2 linked regions of the Homo sapiens genome follow. The gene in region 1 interacts genetically with each later gene. Each region holds a gene or a part of one and is shown on either strand. Other genes may lie near its edges.

Region 1 (4,014 bases):
CGAGATCGTGGACACGCCTCCCGGGCCCGAGCACCTGCAGGACAAGGCCGACTCCCCGCACGTGAGCGGCAGCGAGGCGGATGTGGCCTCCCTGGCCCCCGTGGACTCCTCCTTCTCGCTCCTGTCTGTCTCACACGCGCTCTACGACAGCCGCCTGCCGCCCGACTTCTTCGGCGTGCTGGTGCGCGACATGCTGCACTTCTACGCTGAGCAGGGCGACGTGCAGATGGCTGTGTCTGTGCTCATCGTCCTGGGTGAACGGGTGCGCAAGGACATCGACGAGCAGACCCAGGTGTGTGGTGGGCGGGGCCTCCCCCCTGCAGCGCCGCCCCTGGCACCCAGATCCTGACTGCCGGGCGCTCCCTCCCCCAGGAGCACTGGTACACTTCCTACATCGACCTGCTGCAGCGCTTCCGCCTCTGGAACGTGTCCAACGAGGTGGTCAAGCTGAGCACCAGCCGCGCCGTCAGCTGCCTCAACCAGGCCTCCACCACCCTGCACGTCAACTGCAGCCACTGCAAGCGGCCCATGAGCAGCCGGGGCTGGGTCTGCGACAGGTGGGGCAGTGGGGTCGGGAGGTGGGGCAGGGGCCTGCAGGCAGCGCAGCAGCCCCCGCTGAGGCACCCTCCCTCCCGCCCGCCCCCAGGTGCCACCGCTGCGCCAGCATGTGTGCCGTCTGCCACCACGTAGTCAAGGGTCTCTTCGTGTGGTGCCAGGGCTGCAGCCACGGCGGCCACCTGCAGCACATCATGAAGTGGCTGGAAGGCAGCTCCCACTGTCCCGCAGGCTGCGGCCACCTCTGCGAGTACTCCTGACGGGGCATCTGCTGGGCTTGCCCGGGCGGCCGCGTGCAGAACCCCGCCTGGTCTTGTGCCCGAGACGGGCGGAGGCTGGAACTTGAGACCTCAATAAAGGAAGTAGAGCCGCTGTCGGCACTGCGTGTCACCCCATAGCGCGGCGGGCTCGCCGTAGGCCCGCGGGGCAGCTGGCGGGCGGGGGCTTTCGGCGGGGTTGTCGCCATGGTAACCGGCGGCGCCCATAGTCGCTCTCGGGGCGGCCTTCCCAGTGCCTCCCGTAGAGGCCTCTTCCGGGGCGGGCCAAAGGAGGTCACTTCCGGGGTCCGTCCCGGTTCCCGGCCGTTGCCACGACGACGAAGCTGCCGGCCAATGGCTGGCGGATGGGCCCAAGGTTCCCGGCGTGCAGCGCGGCTGCCTGAGGGCGGCAGGCTCATGGCGCCGGCGTCGCGGTTGCTCGCGCTCTGGGCGCTGGCGGCTGTGGCTCTACCCGGCTCCGGGGCGGAGGGCGACGGCGGGTGGTGAGCGGCCCGGGAGGGGCCGGGCGGTGGGGTCACGTGCGGCGGGCGGGGCGCGGGCTGACCCAGCTGTGCCCGCAGGCGCCCGGGCGGGCCGGGGGCCGTGGCGGAGGAGGAGCGCTGCACGGTGGAGCGTCGGGCCGACCTCACCTACGCGGAGTTCGTGCAGCAGTACGTGCGCCCCTGATCGCGGAGGTCGCGTCCTGTTCACCGGCCCGTCTGCCCCGACCGCCCAAGGCCGCCTTCCCCTGACCTCGCGCGCACGCGTGGGGCTGGGGCGGCGAGGCTGGCGGTCCGGCCTGGCCGCGACTCTGCCCTTCTTTCCAGGTACGCCTTCGTCAGGCCCGTCATCCTGCAGGGACTCACGGACAACTCGGTGAGCGCGTGCCCGTCCGTCCCCGGCCACTCTCGCCCGTGCTGGGCCCGGCCACTAAGTCCCCTCCCCGCCCCCGCAGAGGTTCCGGGCCCTGTGCTCCCGCGACAGGTTGCTGGCTTCGTTTGGGGACAGAGTGGTCCGGCTGAGCACCGCCAACACCTACTCCTACCACAAAGGTACGCGGCCTCACCCCTGGGGCCCGCCCATTTGCCAACACCGGGGCGGCTGGACCAGACGGTCCTGACCCGTCTCTTTCCTGCAGTGGACTTGCCCTTCCAGGAGTATGTGGAGCAGCTGCTGCACCCCCAGGACCCCACCTCCCTGGGCAATGGTGAGGCAGCCCTAGGCGGCGGTAGGGGGTGGGGACGCTTGGAGTCTCCAGGTGCCAGGATCCCTGTCCCCGCCGTCTCTGTTGGCAGACACCCTGTACTTCTTCGGGGACAACAACTTCACCGAGTGGGCCTCTCTCTTTCGGCACTACTCCCCACCCCCATTTGGCCTGCTGGGAACCGCTCCAGCTTACAGCTTTGGAATCGCAGGTGGGTGCTTCTTGGGACTGGGAAGGACTGAGGCTTCTGTCGGTGAGTACAAAATGGGTTGGTCACCAGGTGCTCATAACCCCACAGGAGCTGGCTCGGGGGTGCCCTTCCACTGGCATGGACCCGGGTACTCAGAAGTGATCTACGGTCGTAAGGTCAGCACGGGGTGGGGGTTGAGGCTTGGGACTCGCTGACCAAAACGGGCAAGGGTGACACTGCTGCTCATGCCCCCAGCGCTGGTTCCTTTACCCACCTGAGAAGACGCCAGAGTTCCACCCCAACAAGACCACGCTGGCCTGGCTCCGGGACACATACCCAGCCCTGCCACCGTCTGCACGGCCCCTGGAGTGTACCATCCGGGCTGGTGAGGTCAGTGGCTGGCAGGAGAGGGCCAGGCCAGGCTAGAGGCCCGCAGCTAATCTCTGCTGCACCCCCTTCCTCCACCAGGTGCTGTACTTCCCCGACCGCTGGTGGCATGCTACGCTCAACCTTGACACCAGCGTCTTCATCTCCACCTTCCTCGGCTAGCCAAAACAGCTGGCAGGACTGCCGGTCACACACCAGCACGTCCCACCTCGTGCTCACGGATTTTATTACACAGATAGTGGCGGCAATGGCCTCAGCCCAGCCCACCCTCACCTGCTTTTCCAGCCCACAAAGGGGGACGATCACGGCCCAGCAAAAGCGATGCTGAGAGGGGAAACAGTCCAGAGTCCAACAGCAGAACTTGGGGGAAGCGGTCGGGGTGGCCAGGAACATAAACTATGTATAGGGGCCGGGGGCTTCTGCCCAGGGCTCCCCTGGACCAGGACGCCAGGTAGGGCAGGGAACCTCAGTAGTCCTCCACCCAGCCATTCTCAGAGATGAATGCGTCAATAACCTCCTTCATAGCCAAGTTGGGGATGAGCTGTTCCTGGGTCAGGGGGCTCCGGGTCACGGGGTCAAAATGACCCACACGCTGCAGTGACAAGAAGGGCAGAGGGCAGTCATGGGGCCCAGGACCATGCCACTGGCCCTGCTCCCCCAGCCGCAGGCCTCACCTGCAGGTGCTCCTCGATGTCCTTGCGGTCGTAGGTGATGCCACTGGGCGTGATGCACGGCTCCCGCATCAGCTCAAAGCTGATCTTGCCACACAGGTAGTCGGGGATGTCTCGCTTCTGTGGCACAGGGGCACACGGTCAGAGGCTGAAAAGGGGCACTGCACGAGCACCTGCCAGCCATCGGCAGCAAGCGACACACACTCACCTTCCTCTTCTCATCCACCTGAGAAAAAAGCTCGTCCATGTCCGCCATGTACTTGTCCTGTGAAGAGTTGAGTGCTGTGCTTGGGGGAGACACCCCACCTCCCTCCTCCATGGGGCACAGACCCAACACAAGGCGGGGATGCTCCCACGCCACGTGCACACACACAGACCCACATGTGGGTGGGGGGCACCCTCACGTGCTTGGCCTCAATGCAGGCCTGCTGGGCCCGGACGTGGCTGTCGTCCTCATCACCCTCGTGGTTTCGCTGGCACTCTTCCAGCTCCCTGGGGGTTGACCAGGAGCCGGTCAGAGATGGACCTGGCCAGATGTCTGACCACACCCCAATCTCAGAGCTAACATCCACACTTCCCCACATTTCCTGCTTGCCAGTAAAGCCTTCGATAAACGCTTGTGTCGGGAGTCGGTGATTCAGAATTATCCCAAGACAGGGCGGCCTGGGGTGAGGGTCCCACCTCTCACGCTCCGCGGCAATGAGCCTGGAGAGGTAGGAGTGCAGCTCGCTCTCCTGGTGGATGCGCCGC
Region 2 (3,500 bases), on another chromosome or scaffold:
CTGACAAGAAATGACAAGCCACATTCCCCAACTTTTCAGAAGGGCCCTTCGGGCTGCACCCATGGGGAGTAACAAGAGCACCTTCTCTGAGTACCCACCTCAGCTCAGGCTTATGCTTCACGTGGAGAAAAACAACTTAAACTCTGTTCTTTCCCTTTAAATCAGTGGTTAGAACCAGAGGAGTTTTTTGTCCCCTGCAAGAGACATGTGGCAGGTGGGGCACGGTGGCTCACGCCTATAATCCCAGCCTTTTGGGAGGCTGAGGCGGGCAGATCACCTGAGGTCAGGAGTTCAAGACCAGCCTGGCTAACATGGTGAAAACCCATTTCTACTAAAAATACAAAAAAAAAAAAGCTGGATGTGTTGGCGCGCACCTGTAATCCCAGCTACTTGGGAGGCTGAGGCAGGAGAATCGCTTGAACCCAGGAGGCGGAGGTTGCAGTGAGCCAAGATCATGCCATTGCACTCCAGCTTGGGCAACAAGAGTGAAACTCCATCTCAAAAAAAAAAAATAAAAGTACAGCTGGGCACGGTGGCTAACACCTATAATCCCAGCACTTTGGGAGGCTGAGGCGGGCAGATCACGAGGTCAGGAGTTCGAAACCAGCCTGACCAACATGGGGAAACCCCATCTCTACTAAAAATACAAAAATTAGCTGGGCATGGTGATGCATGCCTGTAATCCCAGCTGCTCAGGAGGCTGAGGCAGGAGAATTGCTTGAACCTGGGAGGTGAAGATTGCAGTAAGCTGAGATCGTGCCACTGTACACTCCAGCCTAGGCAACAGAGCGAGACTCCGTCTCAAAAAAAAAAAAAAAAAAAAGAGACATGTGGCAATGTCTGAAGATGTTTTGGATTGTTACAAATGGAGGGTGAGGTGCTGCTACTGGGATCTAGTTCCTACAGCAAAGGATGGTCAGCCCCAAATGTCAGTAGTGCCCAGGCTGAGAAGCCCTGCTATAAAGGCAACCTCGTGGTGAAAGTGGAGTTTGGCTGCACATAAGCTCAACCTAAATCTGCTTCTGCCAACACAGGTGAAAAGAAAAGGCACTGATTTTTTCAAAGCTGAAATTAAGTATTTCAAAGCAAACGCTGCTAACTCATGGTTTTCAGGAGACCAAGCTCCAGAAAAGCCAAGGAAGTCCCCAAGTAGCCTCCTGGAACCCCAGCCCCTCAGAAATCACCAGTGCTTCGTTGGCCATTGTTGCTTCTTCTTTCATCTGCAGCAGCCTCCTCTCCAACTCATCCCTCGTGCGTTCAGCCTCCTCCCTCATCTGCTTCTCTCGAGCGAGGCGCTGCCGCTCCATCTGCGAGGGGTGAAGAAAAACAGTCATTGAATCACAGGGCTCGAGACCTAGGGTGCCACAAGGGCCCAAAGATGCCCCATCTCCAGTCTCCCCTTTTGGGACCTTTTTCCTTCCCTTTCCTTTAGGTAGCCAGGGTCATTCTTATTGCCCCCCACCCCGTCCTTCTAAACCAGTTGCAGAGTTGAAAGCTGTGCCACTTGAAAAACAGTCTAGTGGTGAATGAACAAATGAACAAACAATAAAAACCTGTTGAGTCTTGACCCGGATAGAAAAAGGCATTCTTTTTTTTTGGTGGAGGGGACAGAGTTTTGCTCTGTCACCCAGGCTGGAGTGCAGTGGCGCGATCTCGGCTCACTGCAACCTCCGCCTCCCAGGTTCAATCAATTCTCCTGCCTCAGCCTCCCGAGTAGCTGGGACTATAGGCACCCGCCACCATGCCTGGCTAATTTTTGTATTTTTAGTAGAGATCAGGTTTCACCATATTGGCCAGGCTGGTCTTGAACTCCTGACCTTATGATCCACCCACCTTGGCCTCCCAAAGTGCTGGGATTACAGGCATGAGCCGCCGCGCCTGGCAGAAGGAGGCATTCTTATACACGGTGCACTGAAATGGCTACCTTGCCAATGTTGCTTTTTGTTGGGAAACCCCAGGTGGCTCTGCCCCATGGCCGATGGGATGCAATGCAGGACCTCCTCCCTCAGATAGAGCCCCAGAAATAAGCAGCTTTCTCATCTGGGCAGGCAAGCCATCTCACCATTTCTAATCCACATGGACCCCTCTCACATCTCTGATTTCATCAACAATAGCTCCACTCTTGCCTCTGACCCACAGAGAAGATGGAATCATTCTACGTGATGCATCAATAGTTCACACATTGTATTTCACAGGGGGGAGCTGCAACAGCCACAGCACAGACTTGCACAGCCTCATGTGGAGACAACTCCTGAGCCAGGCCTAGGACAGGAGGGAGCCAGGCGGGAAACACAGCCCCGTGTCCTTAAGGCAACAGCACAAAGCCACCACTACCTCCCTTGCCTTCTGGATCACTGCATTAATTGGGCCACATGCTGAGCTTAATAAGGGGAACAAGCACAAGACAGTGCCATTCCTCTGTGATCCCAGGGTACTAACTGAGTTCAAAAAGCAGAACCCAGAAGTGACCACTGCACTATTTTCTGCCTTAAATAATTAAAGCACATTTAATTACTTCTTGCTTCAATCTTATCCCACACTCTGGTCATACAAGGTTTCTAAGACTGCTGCTTTTTCTAAATCCTAAGCCAAATACACACACACACACACACACACACACACACACACAAGCTCAAAAAGATAATGCAAAGACAAGCAATAAAACAGTGAAAGTTCTTCTCCAATTTTCTCCTTGTAAGTCAATGAAAAGCTTGGCCAATTTGTTCTCTAATTTCCATCATATTACAATTTCCATAAGGTGGCTTACTACATATCTACAATTCTTTTAAAAAAAAAGAAACTAAGAAAGAAAGAAAGAAAAAGCCCAGTCAGGCCAGGCAGGCATAGCAGCTCATGCCTGTAACCCTAGCACTTTGGGGGGCTGAAGTAGGAGGAATGTTTGAGCCCAGGAGTTTGAGATCAGCCTGGGTAACATAGCAAGACCTGATCTCTACGAAACAATTAAAATTAACTAGGTGTGGTAGCATGCACTTGTAGTCCCAGCTACTTGAGGGGCTGAGGCAGAAGGATTGCTCAAGCCCAGGAGCTTGAGGTTACAGTGAGCTATGATGGCACCACTGCACTCCAGCCTCAGTGACAGAACAAGACCCTTTTATTAAAAAAAAAAGCCAGGTAATCTCCTTCAGTTCCTGGCCCTGTACTTTCCCTGAGACCTCTACCCCAATATAAAAGACCTCCTATTCACAAAAGAAGTTTACTGCATACAAAGACTGTAAGGTGTAATATACGTCCCTTCATCTGAGATGGAGAAGGTATATCATTAGTTTCACCTGATGGATGAGAAAACTAAGGTCTGGAAGGTAAGTCATTGACTTACTCACATTCTAAATTTCAGATCTGGCTCCAAGGTCAGTGTCTGTCCACCTGATCTGTGGTTGCCCAGATGCCAGGTTTGTGGCTCTGCTGTGCTGTAAGCAGTGCCGATCTGCAGTGTTCCTGCTATTCTCTGCCAGGGCCCACAGACTGCATATTCCCTGACA

The links.
Region 2: changes in JMJD8 (region 1) and NF2 together harm fitness more than expected from each alone (negative genetic interaction), as found in Homo sapiens cells (one large-scale study listed by BioGRID).

Annotation. Positions count from the first base shown.
Region 1 is NC_000016.10:681,535-685,548, reverse strand, and holds JMJD8 (jmjC domain-containing protein 8 isoform 1 precursor), read left to right. Parts: upstream 1-1,214; 5' UTR 1,215-1,229; coding exon 1,230-1,315; intron 1,316-1,393; coding exon 1,394-1,483; intron 1,484-1,639; coding exon 1,640-1,688; intron 1,689-1,767; coding exon 1,768-1,864; intron 1,865-1,950; coding exon 1,951-2,019; exon of another isoform or gene 2,020-2,107; coding exon 2,108-2,227; intron 2,228-2,314; coding exon 2,315-2,382; intron 2,383-2,461; coding exon 2,462-2,596; intron 2,597-2,674; coding exon 2,675-2,755; 3' UTR 2,756-3,059; coding exon of another isoform or gene 3,060-3,185; 3' UTR 3,186-3,267; coding exon of another isoform or gene 3,268-3,384; 3' UTR 3,385-3,472; coding exon of another isoform or gene 3,473-3,529; 3' UTR 3,530-3,668; coding exon of another isoform or gene 3,669-3,756; 3' UTR 3,757-3,879; downstream 3,880-4,014. Other genes in the region: GATOR2 complex protein WDR24, read left to right, coding at 1-292, 373-557, 647-815; STUB1 (E3 ubiquitin-protein ligase CHIP), read right to left, coding at 3,060-3,185, 3,268-3,384, 3,473-3,529, 3,669-3,756, 3,946-4,014. UniProt on the Homo sapiens protein: Functions as a positive regulator of TNF-induced NF-kappa-B signaling. Regulates angiogenesis and cellular metabolism through interaction with PKM.
Region 2 is NC_000022.11:29,669,633-29,673,132, reverse strand, and holds part of NF2 (merlin), read right to left. Parts: intron 1,308-3,500; coding exon 1,185-1,307; intron 1-1,184. UniProt on the Homo sapiens protein: Probable regulator of the Hippo/SWH (Sav/Wts/Hpo) signaling pathway, a signaling pathway that plays a pivotal role in tumor suppression by restricting proliferation and promoting apoptosis.